Homo sapiens: one gene and its partners. The protein of the gene in region 3 purifies or fractionates together with the protein of the main gene of each other region. This does not show direct contact. Each region holds a gene or a part of one and is shown on either strand. Other genes may lie near its edges.

Region 1 (3,500 bases), on a different chromosome or scaffold from region 3:
CCACTGCACTCCAGCCTGGGTGACAGAGTGAGACCCTGTCTCAAAAAAAAAAAAAAAAGAAAAAAAAACAGTACATAGGAAAGCCAACTGAGTGAAAGTGATAGCATGATAGTGCTAGGACAGTTACAGTTTAGGAAGGCTTAATGAAAAGGATGGGACTTTTTATTATTATAATACTTTGAGTTCTGGGGTACATGTGCAGAACGTGCAGTTTTGTTACATAGGTGTACATGTGCCATGGTGGTTTGCTGCATCCATCAACTCGTCATCTACATTAGGTATTTTTCCTAATGCCATCCCTCCCCCAGCCCCCCCACCTTCCTATAGGTCCCGGTGTGTGATGCCGCCACCCCTGTGTCCATGTGTTCTCATTATTCAACTCCCACATATGAGTGAGAACATGCAGTGTTTGGTTTTCTGTTCTTGTGTTAGTTTGCTGAGAATGATGGTTTCCAGCTTCATCCATGTCCCTGAAAAGGACACAAACTCAAGGGATGGGACTTTTAACTACACATTGAAAAGTAGATCAGACAAATGAGGAAAATTCCAGATGTGACAAATGATGCCCAAAATGATTCAGGAAAGGAAATGCATAAAAAGAATCCAAAGGTGCAAGACTATATTCTCTTCACCTTTGAGTTGAAGGACCCAGCTCAGTATCCAGCACATAGTGAACACCCCATACATGGGATTTGGATTGTAAATGACACATACATATGATAAAACTTGTTCCTAAACCTGCTTGACAATCTAGGAACAGAAACATCTCATGACTCTTGTAACTAAACAGCTTTTTCACCAACTAAAATATGATCCATATCCAGGAGAAAGTCATATCTCAGAGCTAAGAAAACTAAGTTCAATAGTTTTCAATAACATAGGAAAGTTACTTTTTCGTGTCTATAAGAAGAATTGAACAAGCATATTATCCACAATTTTAGAACCAAAAATTCTTTGTTCATGAAGAAATAACTTTTACTCTCAAAGTCTACTAACCTTTCTTCTTTATAGCTGCCAATTCTTGCTCAATTCTAAGGCAGATAGACTGTGTGAGTTCAAAAGATATCCTCTGAAAAGCATCAAAATCTTCCACTGTGAACACATGGGTCTCTGCAGGAGGAGAGGCAATAGCTTCCAATTCTGAGCGAACGGCATCCTTCACACCAACTGCAAAGATTTCAACATCTGAATTCCTCAGTTTTATCGCAGGATCTCTGAAAGCATCTGATGATTTCCCATCCGTGATAAGAATCATGACCTTTGGCACATTGCTTCTTGATCCCTTGCTAGGCACAAATATTTTCTCTCTGACATAAGTCATTGCTTTGCCAGTATTTGTAGATCCTCCTCTGTAAGGGAAGGTGTTTATTGCTTCAATTATATCTTCAACTTTGGTGAATTTTTTCAAAGTGAACTCAGTATGAGGATCCCGGCTGTATTGCACAAGACTAATCTGGACCCTATTTGGTGAAATTTCAAAACTTTTTACAAGAACTTCCAAAAAGGCTCTAACTTTAACAAAGTTTGCAATCCCAATGCTATAGGAGCCATCAACCAAAAACACAATATCGGCTTTTATATCCACACCACGTGAGCATTCTGTAAAGAGAAAAAAAGTACATTAAACTTCAATACATATTAATCATTAAAATATACATATCTAGCTTTCTTAGTAAGCGTGCTTCTTTAAAAAAAAAACTATTGCAAATATTTCATTCAAAACTAAGTCCAAACAAGTAAGGCATTCTGTCAAACAGATCTTCACATATTCCAAATACAATGATGCACACATTGACTTACCCACTTGAACTTTCATTGGCTGAGTCTTCTCCATTATTGAAATGGGTTCACTGGATGTCATTCCCTTCATGGCGGAAACACTGATCTGGTATTCTGTGTCTGCTGAGAGGTCGCGAACACTGAGCGTGGTTGTCTGAGGCCCCACACTCAGAGCGTGCTGTCGGCTTCCTGCAGTCATTGGTGTGAGGATGACTTTGTAGCCAGTCACTGGACTAGGAGATGGATTCCAATTTAGCTTAACATATTTTGAAGAGACTTCCATGGCAATCAAATTTGAAGGAGGCTCAACAACTAAAAAGTTACAAGCAGACAGTGATTAATAACAGTGAGATGTAACCTTACTAATTTGGTCTTTAGGTTTGGACCTTCAAATCTCCTTATTCAAATTCATCCTAAATACATTGAAAAGAGTTGCCCAATACCCGCCTCAGTCCCCAATTTCACATGTCCCTATCAAACCAAAAGTGGTTCAACACTTGGCTTTTAGTCAAATTGCTGAGAAGTTAATGGAATAAGAAAGTATTTGGAAGAAATTAATGTTGGGACACTTCATGCCTAATTCTTCTCTGAAACCAAGATTTCCATTCTGGTTTTGGTATTCACTCATTGTCTTCATTCTCAAGCACCAAAGTAGGCACTTGATAAATATTTGTTAAATCAATGCTTCATTCAATTCTTTAGGGAATTTTTCTCTCTTAATAACATCATAAAAGTGTAATCTTTAAAAGATACTTTATAATATGCCAAGAAAGAGAAAGCATTTAGTACTTCTTAAATGACAGGTTCTTATAATTTTAAACAATTTTATTTTCACTAGTTTCAGGGTAAGAAAAAAAGTTCAACTATGTTCACAGTGCCACCAAACAGAGGGGAAACAATGGCTTATAACATGCATATTAACGCATGCATATCAGTCCTCTAAAAAATGGTGATCCTTACTCAACATAGAACATAGTCATGTATTTGACAGTTAACGTAAAGTATTTTAAGATATTTCAGACAATATCAAAATTCTGGATTTGTCAATGGAATCAACTTCCCGGAAGATATAGTTATAATTTTTCACAAATCAACCTGCAGGAAGTGTGTGTAAAAACAGGCCCAAATTTACACATCGCCTCCTCAAAAAAGCAACCAGATGTAGGACATAAAAGTGATGTTTATACTGAATAGGCAAAAGCTGGAAGCATTTCACTTGAAAACCAGCACAAGATGAGGTTGCCCTCTCTCACCACTCCTATTCAACATAGTATTGGAAGTTCTGGCCAGAGCAATCAAGCAAGAAAAAGGAATAAAAAGCATCCAAATATGAAGAAAGGAAGTCAAACTATCCCTGTTTGCAGATGACATAATCCCTCTAGAAAACTGCAATGTCTCAGCCCAAAAGCTTCTTAAGCTGATAAACAACTTTAGCAAAGTCTCAGGATATAAAATCAATGTGCAAAAATTGCCAGCATTCCTATACACAACAACAGTCAAGCTGAGAGCTAAATCAGGAACGAAATCCCATTCACAATGGGAGTTGTGAATAATAGAATAAAATACCTAGGAATACAGCTAACTAGTTAGGTGAAAGATCTCTACAAGGAGAACTACAAACCACTGCTCAAAGAAATCAGAGATGACAATGGAAAAACATTTCATGCTCATAGATAGAAAGAATCAATATCATTAAAATGGCCATACTGCCAAAAGCAATC
Region 2 (3,500 bases), on a different chromosome or scaffold from region 3:
CCCTCTGAAGGAGGCAGCCAGCCCTCCACCGCAGCCATCTGCAGCCAGCCGTGTACAATGCCCACCTCATGTGGCTAGATCTACTCACTTTTCAGAAGAAGCTGGAAATCCAGAGTCGTGTGTGAAATCTTTTCAGTTTTTCAACATTTGCAACCAATTCATCTTGTAAGCCAAATGAAACACTTCTGCAGGGCAGATGCAGCCTGTGGACCACTCATTTGCAAACTTTGTTGTCCTCATTTTTCCATCTAGAATAAACACCTTTCTTCACCACTCCTCCTATCCCTGGGCTCCAGCCCCCTCCCCATCACCTTTGGTCCCAGATGTGGAGGGCAAGTGGTCTGTTCCCTCCCTGTTCACCAAGCTGTCACTCCACCTTTCCCCAAAGTCCCTCCTGAAGGTGCTCCCTGCTTCCAGCCTAAGGCGCAGGGGCTGCTCCCCGGACCCCATCACTGTCTGCCTCCCTTCAGTGTCACTCAAGTGTGGCCTGTGCCCTCCTGCCCTGGTTCCTGGCACTTCTCCACTCCCTTCCCATTCTATAACTCTGCTGTTTATAGCACTTCTTCCTTATATTCTCCAGATGTCACCCAAAGCTTATTTCCTTACCTCTCTTTCTGATATTTTTCTCCCTTATCAATTATATCCAGACCAATAATGTTGACTTCTACGTTTTATGGGAAATGACTTCTCCCTCTCAGCCCTAGTTTCCTCTTCACTTCCAGACCCACATTTCAACTTTCTGGACACCTCCATCTCGTGTCCTATTGATAACCAAACTCAACATGTTTACAAAAGAAGCCCTAGAATGGGCAACATTTCAAAGGCCAGCCAGTCAGGAAATCCATCGATGGTTCCAATCCATGCTAGTGAGATTGCATGAGTGATAGAGCGACAGGACATGAGCCTGGGGGTGAGTGGGAGCCCTGTCAGATGAAGCGAGAGGAGAGGACAGGCTGGACTGGCAGAGAAGGTGACAGTATCAGCATGAAGTTGCAGTGTGTCATCAGGTCCTAGAAGCTGTGGCAGAACCGACACTGTTGGAGAAGGAGATGTGTCAGCAGGGGTGGGCCGTAGCCCCAGCTGGGTGAAGAAAGGGTTATGAACTATGACCTCAGGCAGGGAGTGGCTCAGAGCAGTGATACAGTTGTTACTCAGCACAGCCGTGATGTGAAGCCAGGCCTAGAAGGATTCCATACCTTCACACTCCCTTTAGGTGGGACAGGCCCGCCACAGTCAGAGAACAGGTGCCAGGGAACATGACCAGCCTCTTCTGCCACCACTCCATGTAGAGGAAGTGATGGGTTCCTGGTGGGCCTCCCAGGCACTATAACCCAGGGGCAGGTGGTCAGGCAAAAAGCCTTCCTGCACAAGGACTCCAGCTCTATGTGTCTTCTAGGATCTATAAGTACCAGGCCCACGGCTATGCCTTCTCGGGTGTGGAGGAGCTGCTCTACTCACTGGGGGAGTCCACCTTTGTTAACATGACCCAGCACTCTGTGGCTGAGTCCCTGCTGCAGGTGGGCGTCACGCAGCGCTTTATTGATGATGTCGTTTCTGCTGTCCTGCGGGCCAGCTATGGCCAGTCAGCAGCGATGCCCGCCTTTGCAGGTAAGCGTCCAACCCTTGGCCTGCCCACCTGCCCCTCCTCCACCCAAGGTGCTCAGAATGGGCTGGGGGTCCCCATAATAACCTCACTTTTATCCAGCTCATTGCAGTCACATAGGCACTCTGCTGCCCCATCCTGCCTGATTCTGGGACTGGCCATGAGTTGGCAGGAGATAGTATCACCCCACTTCACAGACAGTGAAAGCAAGGCTCAGATCACAGGTCCAGTGTGTTTCTACCACTCCCAATTGCTTCATAATCCCTTGCATGTGTGTAAATGTTAGAGCTGAGATAATGCTCTGCTCTCTACACTTTGGTTTCAAGAACTGCCCTGTTGAGGCCTTTGAGCCACTGTGAGAGCACCTCCTCTTCCCAGCTCTTCACGGGAGTGGCTGGGCCTGTGTGTAGCTCACTGTCTGCTAGCACAGACCACAGGAGTGGAGAATGTAGGCTTCACAAGAGCAGGAATCCTTGTCTATTGTTCCCTGATACATTGCAAACACAGAACAGTGCCTAAGTCATACTAGGCACTGGGTATATTTTTGTTAAATAAATGAATGCAAAGGTTTACAATAACAAGCACCTCCCTCGTACCCTCGATACTGTTCATCTGGCTCTGCACATGCTGGCTCCTTCGCAGCCTTCAGGCCCTGCCTCAGTGTCCCCTCAGTGTTCCTTGCTCACTCTTTCAGTATCTTGTGTGTCTCCTTCATAGCATTTTTGTGTAGAGATATATAGAATTCACATACCATATAATTCGCCCATTTAAATTGCACAATTCAGTGGTTTTTAGCACATTCGGAGTTCTAAAACCATCACCACAATCAATTTTAGGACATTTTTATCACCCCAGAAAGAAACCCCCTTGCCCTTTAGCCCTCACCTCCCCAACACCCCCCGGCCTCCCAGCCCTGGGCAGCTACAGATCTGCTTTCTGTTTCTGTGGATTTGCCTAGTCTGGGCATTCTGCATAAATAGACCTCACAATATGTGGTCTCTGGGAGCTGGCTCTTTCGTTGAGCACAGTGTCTTCCCCCCATAGCATTGTGCACTTTGTTGTACTTACTTGTATGTTTGCCATCTCCCCATGCCCATGGTTGGGAGAGTTTTGCTCTGGCAGGGAGGCCCAGTCGAATAGTACTGGACTCCCCAGCCCTCCTGCCCCACGGCCCTGACAACCTATCAGCACCCACTTCCCGCTTTGCCCAGGAGCCATGTCACTAGCCGGGGCCCAAGGCAGCCTGTGGTCTGTGGAAGGAGGCAATAAGCTGGTTTGTTCCGGTTTGCTGAAGCTCACCAAGGCCAATGTGATCCATGCCACAGTGACCTCTGTGACCCTGCACAGCACAGGTGAGTAGACAGGGCGGGAGTGGGCAGGCATGCCATTCCCAGCCAGTGGACAGACACTTCTGCCTCCTTTGTACCTCAGCCCTGGTCTGTGATCCCCCTGGGGAGTATTTCCGAAAAAGCATTGAGAAGCCCCAACCCTGCCAGGTGACACTAGAGGGTGCTGTTTCCCCAATTCAGATGTCAGCCAGAAAGCTGAGACTTCCATCGACCCAGCCTTTTTCTGTTGACCGATGAGGACTTTGAATGACATCCTTGCCCACGCTCCCCCAACTGGCCAGCGGCGGAAGCAGAGCAGAAACTGAGTCTCCTGACTCCATGCCCCTTGCTTCTTCTGCAGCCGCATCAGCATGGAGAGGCCAGGACCCACCATTTAGACAGCCCTGCTGCACCCTGAGCACCAGGGTCTCGTTGTACCTCAATGCTGGACCCCAGTAGGGAGTTCAGTGGGTAGAAGCCAAGGGAAAGTTGACTTTTGTGCTCTTTTCTTTCCAGAGGGGAAAGCCCTGTACCAGGTGGCGTATGAGAATGAGGTAGGCAACAGCTCT
Region 3 (4,056 bases):
AATTTATATCGTTTTTGGTTAAATGAGAGGTTTTGGCATTTCCCCTCAGTAAGACATCCTAAGTTTAATTCAATTTCATCATAAAAACCTCTCTTTGATCCAACCTAAACTTTCTGTAGTTGGGGCCTTATTAAATACTGAAAGAAGCTGATGGTAATTTTCTATATACTTAAAGCCAGTTAAATGAGTCAGCCAAAACAGTTATAGTTTGTATTAGGTTTGTTCATAGGCTGTGTATTTTATACTTTTATTAAAATTATATTTTTAAACCTGTTTTGAAATATTTCATAATCCATAACACCTTTAGCTATGGAACCTAGGCTCAAAGAAAATATTCTGTCTGAATTCATACAAATACCCTTATTCACTTATTATTTTGGATGTAAATCTCACTAAAATAGGCCTCTTCTGGTTTAAAGGGTATCTTATTTTTAAAAGGGATGCAGTGAATATGATTTTAGCACATATTGTAGGATGAAATGGATGGCTAACAATGTAATAATGTGGAAGCAAATAGCAACTACCTAACAGTAGAAGTCTGAAAACTCAAATTAATCACAAATTACTGACATGTACTTCCAAAACGATTCCTACCTAGTAATGGTAAACATTTGTCTTAATCTCCACCTGCAGGCAATATTTTCTGAGGTTACTTTCAGTTAAATTATACTGCACATCAATAAAGAAAATTCTTTAAAAATACTTTGTAATCTCATGTCTCTTCAAAGGAAATAAAAATGTAGCCATATCTATATACAAATGTGCTTAATGAAGTATTTTCAGCAACAATTTAGAAATAAACTAAATATCCACCAAAGAATCCTTAAGTGTATGTGGCAGATTTATGACAAAAAATACTACACAGGAATTTCAAATTGTGTTTTGGGATAATAACAATGTGAGAAACTGCTCAAAGTATAATGGTGAGTGAAAATGCAAAAGATATATACATATACCTATCCAAATGTTAACATTTCTTTCCACTTACTTGTTTAATATAATTTCATTTTCTCATAAAATTCACATATACTTTTCAAAGTCCTTAATATCTACGAGTGCTTCTCATTTTTCACGCTGCATTAATGTACATTTGTCTTTAATATGAGCATTACTACTTTTATAGTCAGAAAATGTGGAATAATAAAGCAAATGCAATGCAATCCGGTCTTCTCTACTTTTTATCACTAAATTCCTAGACGTTGTGGTATTTTTGTACTAATGTTATACAAAAGTCATGTAAAAACTGCCATTAAATAAATCAAACTCTAACAATGTAGAAAAGTAAATAACTTTAGAAGCATACTTTAAATCTCATAAAAGAGAAGTAAATGTATTTCTGTTAGAGTCATTTATATATAGTATATGCATATAGCCTATAAAATTTAGTTGCGGTTTATCATAAATTACATGTCATACTAATACAAAACACTTAGTATTTGCAACTGCGGTTACTTTCTCTGAATTTAATATGACCCGTTACACTTCTTAGACTAGTATATACCTCCATGAGTTTCCACTGCTACTTTATAAATACTAAAATATTTTTAAAAGCCATTTCAGATTGAGCTGTACTCAACTCTAAGAGCTTGCCTTTAAAGCAAACCCACTGCAGCTTCCAAATGCTTGAAAGCATCAGTAGGGTCTTCAGCTATGATGGTCTGAACGGCCTGCTTTCCTTGTCTCTGGTCCTCTTGAGTTTCTCCTAAAGGCATTCAAGCCTTTCCTTTCTCTTCCATCCCCTGCCTCACAAATGAACTTCAATACCCAGATCAAAGAAGCGGGAGGTCAGACTCTTTCCTTTGGGATTTTCTGTTTGTTTATTTTAAAGAACGTTTCCAATGGCAAAGGCCACAGCCCAACTTCTGGACTAGGAGAGTCATTAAGTGTAAGGCCCTTCCTGTCTTCCCATCACGGGACCCTCACAGAGACCTCAGAGTGTTGCCCCGTCCTACAGGCGCGCAAACAGGCTTGATAACTAGCGCGCCGCCTCAGTGTTTGTCCCCTCTCCTCTCTATCCGAGAAGCCCTGTTCAGGTGCCCCCACCAGCACGCCCGCTGTCTGGCCGCCTGGCTTTCCTGTGGGGTGCAGGAGTGCGCCCGGCCTCCTGCGGGTCTCCGGGCGGCGTCACCTCCTCTGAGGCTTCCCCTCCCTTTCCACCCCGTCGCTCTGACTGCCTTACGGAAAGGGCACCAAGGAACTCTCGGGTGAAGCAGCTTCCTGTTCTCAGTGCTTTCCCTCCGTCCGGTGAGATTCCCAGTGAGACTGTTTGAATAAAATCACCTGGCAAAGGAAAAGCCCAAACTTTAGGGACCAGCCACGGCTGAGTAGGGGCTGAGCGGTGGCAGCCAATGAGATCTCGAGTCGGACGTGCAGGCCGCCGTTCCAATTGGGCGGCCGCCCCAGAGTAACCAATGGGAAGCGCGGGAAGGCCGGGAGGGGGCGGGAGCTCTCACCTGCCACTGGTCTAGGTGTCTGAGGAGCATCTTCCTGGCTCAGAGACCTTTTGCTCCAGGTGCTCATGCCGCAAATGGCAATCTGCGCGCGAACTAATTCGCGGCCGCATAATTTAATAACTTCCTCCATCCATGAGTCCGCGACTGCTCTGGAAAATTGGTTCAGTAGTAAACAGACTCCTAGCAGGTGGAAAAAAAACAGGCGAGGCATCCTGGGCCTGGTCTCTCCTGGAGGTCGGGACGTTGCAGCCTTTCAGGACTGCAGCTGCTGTGGCCTACACACCTGGGCCTGTGTGCCTGTCCCGGGCTTTAGGCTGCTTTCCCTACCCGGCTCAAGCGGTCTTTTGTATCCCTTGGGCTATCACTCAGCTTTTAAGGCAAGGGTGCCAGCTCCACCCCTTTCCCACACCCCTCCACAGAATTTTCCCCCTCAGCTCTTGGTCTCCCTCTCTGCCTTTCCTTCATTTGCCCATCCCTCTGTCCTTGGCCCTTTTACAGTTGTGTTCTTCTCATTCATTACCCTCAAACAATTTAGTATACTGAGGTAAAGTCATTTTAGATATGAAGCCTTTCCTTTTACACACACAGAAACAAATTTGAGATCACCCATATTCTTACAACTCAGTTTTCTAGAGTGAACATTTGCCAAAAAACCCTTCTAACCTAAATAAGATTATAGATTATCTTGTAAATTGGGTTAATTAGTATAGTGTTGGGTATATCAATCCATAAAAATATAAAAATAGAATGGATGAATAAATAAATTGTTGATGACAGGGAAAACTGATGACTTTTAATCTGAATGCAGGTAAAAACATTAAAATCCCCAGTAACATCATGTTAGGCTTGTGCAGTAATGTCTTTAATTTACAAAACAATTTCTCCATTGCACTTTCCTTCCACTCTTGGGGATAAATTTGATTGTAACTAGTTATCTGAACATTTTAATTTAAAATTCTAATCTACATCTCTGGAGACTGGAGAACATACCACACACACACACACACACACACACACACACACACACACACACAGAGAGAGAGAGAGAGAGAGAGAGAAGAAAAAAAAGCAGTGGAAATCCCACAATCCCACAAAGAATATTTTGGTAACAAATTACAGCACAAAGATATGTTTGTTTGTTTACTGTATTTTGTGTTTGCTGCACCTGGTAAGAGGTGATTTTTTACCATCATTTAATTTAACTTTCTAAAGATCCACACTGTTCTAGGTAATATGGTTAGTAGACAACCCTTCTACCTGTAAATTTTTAGTACAAGTAGGTTCATTTTTTAAAATAACTTACTTGCTTGTGTTCATAATATACTCAGATTAGTTCAGCTCCATCAGATAAACTGGAGACATGCAGGACATTAGGGTAGCTTTGAAATAAAAGAATAACAATCTCTTAGTTACAAACATAACTATGGAATCAAATAATTCTAATTTCTAGATTGCTGGTGATGTCAGTAGGCCCACTTAGCATTGGTCAAATGCCAAGCAATGTGTAATTCTTCAAAAAATACCTGACCAAGACTATGAGATGGTCAGATGCAATCAATGCTTTTAAATGAGTTTTCATTAAAACACGCAGTTTGAGAGAGGC
Region 4 (3,500 bases), on a different chromosome or scaffold from region 3:
TCCTGGGTGCAAGTGATTCTCCTGCTTCAGCCTCCCAAGTAGCTGGGATTACAGGCACGTGCCACTACACCCGGATAACTCTTTGTATTTTTAGTAGAGATATGGTTTCACCATGTTGGCCAGGCTGGTCTCAAACTCCTGACCTCAGGTGACCCACCCACCTCGGCCTCCCAAAGTGCTAGAATTACAGGTGTGAGCCACCACACCCGGCCTCTTGGTATAATTCTTACTGGGGATGATGGAGCAACATGAAGCCAGTGTTTCTGGATGTTCACAGACTTGTGTTAAACCCTAAAGTAAAATGTGACACAAGAGAGATAAAGCCTCTATTGTTTAAAACAAACAAATAAAAAAATCATTTTCTTTCTCCTTTCAGAGGTAGTTTCGTGTCTGCCGGCAGAGTTCATGGGAAAATATAGCCAAGGCCTTTGATACAGAGAGGCCTGGGTCCAGATCCTTGCTCTACAAATTCTGTGACTTTGGGCCGATTCTTCACCTACATGAAGCTGGGTTTCTTTGTCTGCCGAACTAAGAGCAACTACTGCTCCAAATTGAAAGGACTGTTGTGACTGTTGCAATGTGATTAAATGAGACACACGGTGAAGCTCCTGGCACTTAACGGACACTGAATAAATGCCGATTTGCTTCCTTTTATTAGCCAGGTGTCATTTTATGTATAAAATTTCTCAGCTAAAGTACTGAGCCCAAAGGTATCCCAGAGCCTTTTTATAATAATTATGCCATTTAAATATGCAGGTAAATTCTGTGAGTAGGATAAGCCTCTACGTAACAGTGATCTGGAAAAAAATAACAATAGGAGGGACTCTGAAGGTCTATGAAGAAAGTCTGAGTGGAAAAAATCTTATTTAAAAGTCAGTTGCTCAATAAATTGTAAGTCAGTAGTTATGTTTATTGCATTCTTTATTTTAATATTCATGTATTTTAAGTATGCTGATTTGCCAACTGCACACTAAATCACATCGTTATTTAAATTTTTTTCCCTTTCAAATCTCCATGAAAGCAATTTCTACTCTCACAGCAGCATACAACTGATGGAGAGATTTTAGAGGTCTTAAAAGCTTTGCACTCCATATTTGTTTGACTCATAAGGAGCATAATGAAAGAAAGTCGTGTGTATACTTAAATAATTAAGAGCAATTGACTGGTCTGGACGTGTGACATTCTCAGCAACCACATTTTTTTGTTGTTTTTTTTTTTTGAGATGGAGTCTCACTCTGTTGCCGAGGCTGGAGTGCAGTGGCGTAATCTTGACTCACTGCAACCTCCACCTCTTGGGTTCAAGCAATTCTCCTGGCTCAGCCTCCCGAGTAGCTGGGACTACAGGCATGTACCACCACACCCAGCAAGTTTTTGTATTTTTCGTAGAGATGGGGTTTCACCATGTTGGCCAGGCTGGTCTCCAACTCCTGACCTCAGGTGATCTGCCCACCTCAGCCTCCCAAAGTGCTGGGGTAACGGGCATGAGCCACAGCACCTGCCAGCAATCTCATTTAATTCAAATGCAGGTATTCAAAGTAACATATTGAAATGAATAAAGTAACCCACTGTAATGGATAGATCTCATTTACAGTCACCAAGAATTTTATGTTCTGTGCATGTTTTAACCCAAAGTTGGAGAGAGCATCTTTACTTGTAAGATACACAGTGTCAGCATGTATCATGAAACTTAAACAGATTTCTCCCATTTAAGAAGACAGCACTTACACCTCGAGGAGGGAATAGAATTCTAGTGATTACTAAACAATCGACCATCTCATTTTATATCTTAAGTTCAGAGTTGTAAAAGGGTGACTCTATACTGGGAAAGAAGGCCCACCTAGTATGAAAAAGCATAGCCGTAATTTAATTTTCTCCCACACTTTTCCATTTTAACAGTAAAAGACAACTTCCCATCATCGCTTTTGTTTTGTTTTGAGACAGGGTCTCGCTGTGTCACCCAGGCTGGAGTTCAGTGGTGTGATCATGGCTCACCGCAACCTGGACCACCTGGGCTCGAGTGATCCTCCCACTTCAGTCCCCCACGTAGCCAGGACTACGGGCACATGCCACAATGCCTGGATAATTTTTTATTTTTGTAGAGACAGGGTCTCGCTATGTTGCCCAGGCTGGTCTGGAACTCGTGGCCTCACCCAATCCTCCTGCTTCTGCCTCCCAAAGTGCTGGAATTACAGGCATGAGCCACTGTGCCCAGCCCCCATGATGACTTTCTAAGTGGAAAGGTTTTTTTCAGTTCCCAAAATTGATAACCTGGAAATCCAGACCTCAAAATGCAGTCCTTTAATTAAGGCCCCGAACCCTTCAAATGAAGATGTCTTTGGGACTCTGGAACACTGAGAGGCTCTGCTGATTGGTGGGAAAGGCTCTTGTCTCTGGGCAAATCTCTCACTGTTTAGAGCCTTTAGATAGTTAAGAAAATCAAATGTGAACAAACCCTTGTTTGCATAACAAATTCTTATCCATCTGAAATGCCGCACCATTAAATAAGCTTCCAGCTGGAATCAGGTGACAGTTGGTGCGGGAGACCTTATCAATTCACCATTGCATGTTTAATATTCTATGCACTACGTGAGAATTTCTACAGTGTGAATGTTTTTAGTCAACAGAAATATAAAAATGCTTATTTTTAAAATATTAAATCTTCATTAACCTGGAAAAATGCGGTTAGCCAGAATGACTAATTTCCTGGAGGTTATAGATAGTTTAGGTTTTTCTCTACTAGCTGGAAATCATTCACACGTAAGAATTCTTTGGCTTTACAAAAAAGTCACTGATCTGTCCAAACATGAACCAAATTCGTTAGCGATTTCCCTCCAACATGTAGTACACTGAAGTGGGAAATCTGGGGTTTGGCAAAGGAAAACCTACATTCAAAATCTCACTCTATCCTTTACGAGTTGTGTTACCTTAGGTAAGTTACTTAACTTTTCTGTTTCTCTTTCTATTCCATTTCCTCATCTGCCAAATAAGGATAATAAGGCCAAGTGGTGCATTAAAACAAAAGATGTAACAGTTGAAAAATAACTAGAACAGGCCAGGCGCAGTGGCTCACACCTGTAATCCCAGCACTTTGGGAGGCTAAGGCGGGTGGATCATGAGGTCAGGAGATCGAGACCATCCTGGCTAACACAGTGAAACCCCGTCTCTACTAAAAATACAAAAAAGTAGCCGGGCGTGGTGGCGGGCGCCTGTGGTCCCAGCTACTCGGGAGGCTGAGGCAGGAGAATGGCGTGAACCCAGGAGGCAGAGCTTGCAGTGAGCCCAGATCGCACCACTGCACTCCAGTCTGGGCGACAGAGCAAGACTCCGTCTCAAAAAAAAAAAAAAAAGAAAAAAGAAAAGAAAAAGAAAAATGACCAGAACAGTGCAGACCACATAGTTGTTTGCAATCAAATCATTTTTAACAGCTGACTAAGCCTAGACAACATAGCGAGACTCCATCTCTTAAAAAAAAGTAGCCAGGCATAGTGGTGCATACTTGT

What was found. The genes of interacting proteins can lie anywhere in the genome.
Region 1: the proteins of RLN2 (region 3) and COL12A1 purify together in Homo sapiens (affinity purification with mass spectrometry; one large-scale study listed by BioGRID and IntAct). This does not show direct contact.
Region 2: the proteins of RLN2 (region 3) and PCYOX1L purify together in Homo sapiens (affinity purification with mass spectrometry; one large-scale study listed by BioGRID and IntAct). This does not show direct contact.
Region 4: the proteins of RLN2 (region 3) and TENM3 purify together in Homo sapiens (affinity purification with mass spectrometry; one large-scale study listed by BioGRID and IntAct). This does not show direct contact.

What each region holds. Positions count from the first base shown.
Region 1 is NC_000006.12:75,182,054-75,185,553, forward strand, and holds part of COL12A1 (collagen alpha-1(XII) chain long), read right to left. Parts: intron 2,092-3,500; coding exon 1,801-2,091; intron 1,600-1,800; coding exon 997-1,599; intron 1-996. UniProt on the Homo sapiens protein: Type XII collagen interacts with type I collagen-containing fibrils, the COL1 domain could be associated with the surface of the fibrils, and the COL2 and NC3 domains may be localized in the perifibrillar matrix.
Region 2 is NC_000005.10:149,364,546-149,368,045, forward strand, and holds part of PCYOX1L (prenylcysteine oxidase 1-like isoform 1 precursor), read left to right. Parts: intron 1-1,396; coding exon 1,397-1,608; intron 1,609-2,814; coding exon 2,815-2,955; intron 2,956-3,447; coding exon 3,448-3,500. UniProt on the Homo sapiens protein: Likely to have oxidoreductase activity. Required in the mevalonate pathway to regulate prenylation and enhances the bactericidal activity of neutrophils.
Region 3 is NC_000009.12:5,301,917-5,305,972, forward strand, and holds the start of RLN2 (prorelaxin H2 isoform 1 preproprotein), read right to left. Parts: upstream 2,801-4,056; 5' UTR 2,665-2,800; coding exon 2,454-2,664; intron 2,350-2,453; exon of another isoform or gene 2,281-2,349; coding exon of another isoform or gene 2,180-2,280; intron 1-2,179.
Region 4 is NC_000004.12:182,249,902-182,253,401, reverse strand, and holds part of TENM3 (teneurin-3), read right to left. Parts: intron 1-3,500.